2 separate regions of the Homo sapiens genome follow, and region 2 is linked to region 1. A link means that fine-mapping ties the variant in region 1 to the plasma level of a protein whose gene starts in the linked region. Region 1 holds a variant in brackets. A gene starts in the other region. All regions are shown on their reverse strands. Region 1 overlaps ARSG (arylsulfatase G). Region 2 holds the start of CLEC4G (C-type lectin domain family 4 member G).

Evidence for each region. A credible set is the group of variants that fine-mapping cannot tell apart. PIP is the chance, under the fine-mapping model, that this variant and not a neighbour inherited with it causes the effect. Protein levels are from antibody-based Olink assays in UK Biobank. Linkage for the fine-mapping came from a reference panel and not from the study's own genotypes, which makes the PIPs less certain.
Region 2: it holds the start of CLEC4G, and the variant in region 1 is the best candidate, but not a certain one, in a credible set for the plasma level of the CLEC4G protein (UK Biobank, PIP 0.50).

Annotation. Positions count from the first base shown.
Region 1 is chr17:68,321,375-68,326,899 of GRCh38, reverse strand. All of the region lies in intron 2 of ARSG (arylsulfatase G), which reads right to left. Among named protein-coding and RNA genes, the nearest start is that of ARSG, 33 kb to the right of the region's middle. The variant C/T (reference allele first, on the strand shown) is at 2,596.
Region 2 is chr19:7,731,044-7,733,644 of GRCh38, reverse strand. CLEC4G (C-type lectin domain family 4 member G) reads left to right here and starts at 1,535. Exons shown (of 9, transcript NM_198492.4): 1 at 1,535-1,597; 2 at 1,874-1,984; 3 at 2,326-2,379; 4 at 2,557-2,601. The coding sequence starts at 1,543. RefSeq lists a cis regulatory region at 1,461-1,470 and promoters at 1,277-1,540, 1,228-1,540, 934-1,540.

The sequences.
Region 1 (5,525 bases):
CACATGACTCATGGGGCTGCTGACGACTGTTGCTTGATGCACAACCACCCACCCCAACCCACCACAAGAAGTATTAGTTTCCAGGTGTGACACAACACGGGAAAGGTGGGAACTTGCCACCTCAGTGATCTGGACCCCGTTTGGCATCAACTCCCCTCCTCCCCAAGCTCTCTCCCCTCCAGCCAGACAAGGTGAGTTGCTTTTACTTTCTGCTTTTTTTGTTTGTTTGTTTTTTAGACGGAGTTTCGCTCTTGTCACCCAGGCTGGAGTGCAATGGCACGATCTCGGCTGACCACAACCTCCGCCTCCCAGGTTCAAGAGATTCTTCTGCCTCAGCCTCCCAAGTAGCTGGGACTATAGGCATGGGCCACCACGCCTGGCTAATTTTTGTATTTAGAGTAGAGACGGAGTTTCACCATCTTGGCCAGGCTGGTCTCAAACTCCTGACCTCAAGATCCATCCACCTGGGCCTCCAAAAGTGCTGGAATTACAGGTGTGAGCCACCGCGCCAGGCTGAGTTGTTTTTTCTAGAACACTTCCAGCTGGCTCTGGCCTCAGGCCCTTTTTGTGTTCCCTCTGTCCTGATCACTCTGCTCTGGTCTCCACAGGGCTGGCCCCTCCTGGTCAGCTGGGCTTCAGCTCTCATTTCGCCTCCTGGGGAGATCTCCCTGACCCGGCTACACCTGCAGCAGCACTGTTCGAGTTTGTCCCTAACCCTTATCATATCTGACTTTATCTTGTTCAGGGATTTGTCTTCTTGCTGCTGCTGGCTCCCTTATCTAGGTTAGAGTTCCACAAGAGCAGAGGTATGTCTGCCTAGTCTTGTCACTGCCCTAGGGTATAATTCCAGACCTCAGGAACGCTGTTTCTCCACCAACAGCAGCTCGGGTCCTGCACTCTACCTGGTGAGACCTAATGATAGTTTCCCATGTAATGTCCCACCTGGATACTAATGCAGTGTGGGACTCCACTGCATGCTAATCAAACTAGCACAAGCTTCTGTCCTTGGTGAACTGGCCCATGACCCATGAGCCAAGCAGGGCTATTGTGAATTTAAACTTGGAATTTTCTGAACCAGAGAATGAGAAATAGCTCTTTTCTCCCCCTCTGGAATATCAAGCTATAAGCAGGCAACCCCAGAAGGGTAAGGGCTTCCTTGACTATCACATGGAGGAACTTGAAAGAATGGGCCAACTGGCTCAGAAGCACAGAGGAAAAAATGGAGGCTCTCAGGGGCTTAGTTCAAGAGCCCCACCTGTGCCTCTTTTGTGTTTAGGTTGATTGAGTTGGGTTTCCGTCACTTACAACCAGAGAGTCCTGGCTATTATACTGTAGGTCAGCTATCCCCCACCTTCCTGGTACCAGGGACCAGTTTCATGGAAGACAGTTTTTCCACAGACAGGGGTTGGGAGGGATGGTTTCGAGATGATTCAAATGCATTACATTTATTGTGCACTTTATTTCTATTATTATTATATTGTAATATATAATGAAATAATTACACAACTCACCATAATGTAGAACAAGTGGGAGCCCTGAGCTTGTTTTCCTGCAACTAGATGGTCCCATCTGGGGGTGATGGGAGCCACTGACAGATCATCAGGCATTAGATTCTTATAAGGAACATGCAACCTAGATCCCTCACATGGGCAGTTCACAATAGGGCTCGCACTCCTGTGAGAATCTAATGCCGCTGTTGATCTGACAGGAGGCGGAGCTCAGGCGGTAATGCAAGCGATGAGGAGTGGCTGTAAATACAGATGAAGCTTCACTCACATGCCGCTCACCTCCTGCTGTAGGGCCCAGCTCCTAACAAGTCATGGACTGGTACAGTGGCCTGGGGGTTGAGAACCCCTGCTGTAGGTGATCCAGGATATATCAATGAACAAGACAAATCCCTGCCCTCAAGCTGCTCACTGGTCAGTGAGGGAGGTGGATAATTTCATTATGTAAGAGGATTTGGGAAACATGAAGCACAGGATGTTCTCAAAGGGCACCAAGTGTGTATACCTGTGTGTTGGGAAAGCATTTCCCAAAAGAAGTTAAGTGTAAGCTGAGACCTAAGGTATAAATAGGCATTAGCGTTGTCTTATAGTAACAAAAATATCTAACACGTACCAAGTGGCTACTACTCTACTCATGTTACACATATTTCTAACTTTTAAAACACTCTGTAAAACAGGCATCCAAATTCCCATTCTACAGAGAAGGAAGCTGAGGCAGAGAGAGTTTAAATAGCTTTCCAAGACTACATAGCTGGTATGAGCTCAGTGCATCTTATGCCAAGGCCTGTCTCATCACGGTGCCATATTGAAGACTGCAGACCCCTACAGGGAGGAAATGGCAAAGCCAGAATTTGAACCCAGGCCTTTCCAACCCAAATTCCTATGCCCTTTCCACTACAGCCACGCGAGGGAAGGTTGTCTGGAGCTGGGCCGGTCCGCAGGAGGTATCGTATTAACTAGGTCATCGTGTTACAGGAGCCAGTCTTTGGCTGGGAAGGTCCTGAGAGTCATGCTTGGTGGTGCCAGCCCCGAGAGCCTGACTCACATCCACACAAACCATGTGAGCCCAAGAAAGAGGCAGGAATGCCCA[C/T]GACCCATCTGACTTCCAAGGATGGGTACAGGAACCAGAATGTCAGCGTGGTCAACATGTTTTCTTCCTGTGCACAAGCTACACAGGAAATCAGAATCTGAAGTTTGCCTTAGTGAGTGTGGACTTCGTTAATGCTAAGAGAATTCAAATGGAGCATCAAAAAAGTCCTTTACTTTGTGAAGCTTGAGGGCCTTTTCTCTACTGTAGATTAACTTTTTTTTTTTTTTTTTTTTTGATGGAGTTTTGCTCTGTTAACCAGGCTGGAGTGCAGTGGCATGATCTCAGCTCACTGCAACCTCCACTTCCCAGTTTCAAGCAATTCTCCTGCCTCAGCCTCCCAAATAGCTGGGATTACAGGCACCCGCCACCACACCTGGCTAATTTTTGTATTTTTACTAGAGATGGGGTTTCGCCATGTTGGCCAGGCTGGTCTCGAACTCCTGACCTCAGGTGATCCACCCGCTTCGGCCTCCCAAAGTGTTGGGATTACAGGCATGAGCTACAGCACCCAGCCTGTGGATTGATCTTTGACAGTGGGTCTGGGATACTCAAAGGCTGTTGAGCCACCATTTCCTCTTGCCTGGTTCCATGGACTGAATGTTTGTGTCCCTCCGAAATTCATATGTGGAAACCCGAATCCCCAGTGTGTCCATATGTGGACATGGGCCCTTTAGGTGGTAATTAGATTTAGATAAGGTTATGAGGGTTCCATCAGCTTCCATGATGAGATAAGTGCATTTGTGAAAAGAGGACTTGGCTGGGAGTGGTGCCTCATACCTATAATCCCAGCATTTTGGGAAGGTGAAGTGGAAGGACTGCTTGAGCCCAGGAGTTCAAAATCAGCCTCGGCAACATAGCAAGAGCCCATCTTTACAATAATAATGATTAATTAATTAATAAGAGGGTTCTTTCTCTCTCTCTCATTAAGTATGTCTATGGCTTTGGGGTAAAGTCAAGTTAATTTGAGTCCTTTTCCTAGTTTTCATTGACTTCTCAGACCTAGAATTTATAAATTAGAGTCTGCAGTGACTCAAACTATCTGAACTTCATTTTACTCATATGTAAGTGAGGATAATAATGCTAATCTTATAAAATCCCTGCAAGGATCAAATGAGAGAATTTATAAGTCACACTGATAGGATATGGCACCAACTAGATGTTAATTCGAAATCTGTTCACTCCAAAAAAAAAATAACCAGTTCTCCTCCCAGACCCTCCATGTCTTCCAATAATTAGGATGATAACATCAGAGAGAGAGAGAGAGAGAGCCCTCTCTTATTAATTTATTATTATTGTAGAGATGGGGTCTTGCTATGTTGACCAGGCTGGTCTTGAACTGTATTCTCCTTGTGAGAATACAGCAAGAAGGGGGCCGTCTGCAAGCCAGGAAAGAGCCCTCACCAAAACCTGACCATGCTAGTACCCTGATGTTGGACTTTAGCCTCCAGAACTGTGAGAAATAAACATTTATTGTTTAAGCCATACAGTCTGTTGTATTTGTTACAGCAACCCAAGCTGACTAATATGGCTGGTCAGTGCCAAAAACACACTGCCTGAATGTTATCCCTGCTTGCCCAATTTTAACAGTGGCCCTAAATGTAATCTCCCCGTGGGCTTGTTAACGTCCTCATCTTGGGAACAGCTATCTTAATTTCTTTTTTTTTTAATTTTTTTTTATTTTATTTTTTTGAGACGGAGTCTCACTCTATCGCCAGGCTGGAGTGCAGTGGCACAATCTTGGCGCACTGCAACCTCCGCCTCCCAGGTTCAAGCAATTCTCCTGCCTCAGCCTCCTGAGTAGCTGGGACTACAGGCACGCAACACCATGCCCAGCTAATTTTTGTATTTTTAGTAGAGATGGGGTTGGCCAGGATGGTCTCGATCTCTTGACCTTGTGATCCGCCTGCCTCAGCCTCCCAGAGTGCTGGGATTATAGGCATGAGCCACCGCGCCCGGCCAGCTATCGTACATTTCTACAGCGGGATGCAGTTTTGAGTTCCTTTGCCGGGTGTAGGTTTCATGAGATGGGGCTTAGAGTTGCAACTCCAGCCCCAAGCACAGCACCTTGGTGGGGCAGGGCTGCCCCAGCAATATCTGGTGAACAAACAAAACTTAGAGAAACTCAGGTGGTTTGATTGGAAAAAACATGTCAGTTCATTCTTCATGTAATCACTTAAGCGGATGCTTTCAGGGCTCAATTCCTTCCCCACAGTGTGTTAAAGTTCATAGCTTAACTCTCAGAAACAATCTCGTTTCCTTTATTTGCAATTCTTTGGAGACGCTGTACCCACCCCCAAAAATGCAGCTTTATGAACTGGCCTGCACGTCACCTTTTTTCCCCCTCCTGGCCACTGTCTCCATTTAGTTGGACTAATTAATAAGCAATAAAATGACCTTGTTATTTGGAAAGCTTTCTTTCCTCCCAAGTCTATCTGGGCAGGCTCAGGCCAGTTCATCATCAGGGGTCCTAATTAAAGTCTGAAAATACATTGTAAAGCAAAGCTGGAAATACAGAGCCAGACATTACAGCAGCCTGTTAACAAGAAAATCAACGCAAATTAAGACACAGCCAGACAGAAACCAAAGCAACTTGCCATTGCATAAATTATGTGTATTAGAATCAGGGAAGGCTAGCACTGGAAAGGCTGCCACAAAAGCCCCGGAGAGACATAACGTTGCAAAGTTAAGCGTGTCCAGCCTTCATTTACAAGGAATTTAAAATAGATGATGGGGTGTTCTGTGGCAACTCTGACTGGAATAAAAACTGTCCTTGTTCCATTCATAATTTAAAGGCATGGACGTGAAAATAGGTTTTTAAAATCTTTTGCTGCGGCCTTTGTGTGTAAAGGGACAGGGTTGGGAGATGGGAACTGGAAAGTAGCTGAAATAAAACTCAGAGAACCAGCTCAGCCCAGCCTCCACATTGCCTT
Region 2 (2,601 bases), not on the chromosome of region 1:
TGTTTACATATCTACAAGAGGGGCTGGAACATTCTATTAAGTGCTCAACATTTCACCTTGTCAGTGAGGCTGGCCCTGGCCACCCTAGCCACTGCCCACTGCCTAGTGCCCATCCCAGTCCTGCCAAGTACTTATCCTACTGGATTTTTTCTTCCCTTAATGTTTTTTCATAGCATTTATGACTTTTGAATAGAGTATACTACGGTTCCCACCTTTTGCACTATGGACATTAGGAGTCAGATCATTCTTTGCTATGGGGGATGTCTTAGGCATTGTAGGGCTTTGCGCAGCATCCCTGGCCTCTACCCACTAGATGCCTGGAGCACACACACACACACACACACACACACACACACATTCTGTGACAACCAAAAGTGTCTCCAGACATAGCCAAATGTCCCCTGGTGGGCGTAATTGCCCCCAGCTGGGAACTACTATGCTATACAACTTATGTTTTCAATTATGTTTATTACGTTGAGTATGGAGTCTGTCTCCCCACACTTCTAGAATATTAGCTCCAAGAAGAGAGGAATTTGCTTATTTTACTCTCTGATGTGGCCCCAGTTCCAAGATCAATGCCTGGCATATGGCAGGTGCTCAATGTTTGTTGAAAGAATGCATGAACACTGAGTGTTTTTGATATGCCTGAAATGGTGCTAGGTAGACATGTATAACCTCATTGTCTTTATTTTTTTATTTTTTCAATTTTTGTTTTCATATATATATATATATATATATTTTTTTTTTTTTTTCAGAAATGAGGGTCTTGTTATATTGCCCAGGCTGGTCTGGTCTGGAACTCCTGGGCTCAGTGATCCTTCCATGTCGGCCTCCCAAAGTGCTGGGATTACAGGTGTGAGCCAGCAAGACTGTCTTGTTTCTTTATCATAGCATCTTTGTGAGAGAGGCCCATCGCTATCTCCTTTACAGTGGGGAAAACTAAGGCTTCTAGAAGCTACCTAGAACCCATACAGTGGTAGAGTCCTGCAGCTCCGCCGGCTACCTCCCTAACAAAACTGTTTGTTCCCTTCTGGTACAGAGGGACTGGATCAAGGTCAGGTTCAAACCCAGCCTCTGCAGGCACCTGCAGGGGAGTTGAGAAGGGACCTGAACTGGCCTGGGGGGCTATGCCTGAGGGGGCTTTCTCAGGAGCCAGCAGGGGTTACAATTTGGTCGGGTTCAGTGTGTCCCTCGCGGGATAAAACCCAGCCCCAGGCCCATAAGAGATGGTGACTAAGCTCCAAAGAGAAGCCTCCAGCCCCAGGCCCATAAGAGATGGTGACTAAGCTCCAAAGAGAAGCCTCCAGCACCAGCCTGGGGATGGAGCTGCAGTGGCCAGAACCAGGAGGCTGGAACCGCCCGGCCTCACTCCAGCCCAGCCCAGCCCAGCCTTGAAAGGGCCCAATCCTGTGATTGGTCCATGGGTTCCCGTTGCCAGGAATTAAGGCCAAGAAAATGGGAAGGAAGGAAGGGAGTGCGTAGGTCCAGTGAGAACAGGCGTGAAATTTATATCTCTGCCCAGGACTGGGTGCCTGCATCGCCATGGACACCACCAGGTACAGCAAGTGGGGCGGCAGCTCCGAGGAGGTCCCCGGAGGTATGAGCAAGGAGACTGCCCCATCCCTGCCCCAGTGTCTGGGGTTTGATGGGGGAGGGGAGGGAAGAGTCGAGACAGGCCAGGGTTGTGGGTGCAGGAGAGACACCACAGGCCATAGAGCCAGTTGGACCAGGGTCCAATTCCAACTCTGCCGCTTAGAAGCTGTGTGACCATAGGCAAGTTACTTAACTTCTCTGAATCTCAGTTTCCTGGGAGTAACTCAGGCCTCCAGGGCTCAGTTCTGGGGGACCCAGCATGCCGTCCTTGTTATGCCAGGGCCCTGGGGACGCTGGGTGCACTGGAGCAGGAGACCCCTCTTCTTGGCCCTGGCTGTCCTGGTCACCACAGTCCTTTGGGCTGTGATTCTGAGTATCCTATTGTCCAAGGGTGAGTGACTCTCAATGGGGAGGTGTTGCATCCGGCCCCCCTGGGGACAGAAAACCCCCACTGCATGGCGCACCAGCTGCATCCTGGGGTCCTGTTCGCGTCTGAGTGTGAGCAGAGTGTGTGTACATCTTTGGGCCGTGTGCACTCACGCGTGTGCACATGGCGTGCTCGTATGTGCGCGAGTCCCCGCGCGTTTGTCTCCCATCGGCGTGTGTGCACATCGTGTGAGCTGTATGCCTGCCCGCCCGCTCCGTGCTCCCGAGTTGGGGGACGCTGCACCCCCCGGGCGAGGGGAGGATTCCCGAGTTCCCGGCCTCGCCTGCAGGAGCCTCTCTCCTCAGCCTCCACGGAGCGCGCGGCGCTGCTTGACGGCCACGACCTGCTGAGGACAAACGGTGTGTGCAGAGCCGGGCGCCTGGGCCCCCGGGGCGTGAGGGGCGGGAGTTTCTGAGACCCCGGAGATGGAGTCTCGAGTGCGTGGGGGCCCTATGGTCCCTGAGGCTGGAAGGGGGTCCCCTGAGTCCTCCCAAGTGACCCGAGGGGCATGCATTTTGGGGCGGGGGTCGTTCCAGCCTCGAAGCAGACGGCGGCGCTGGGTGCCCTGAAGGAGGAGGTCG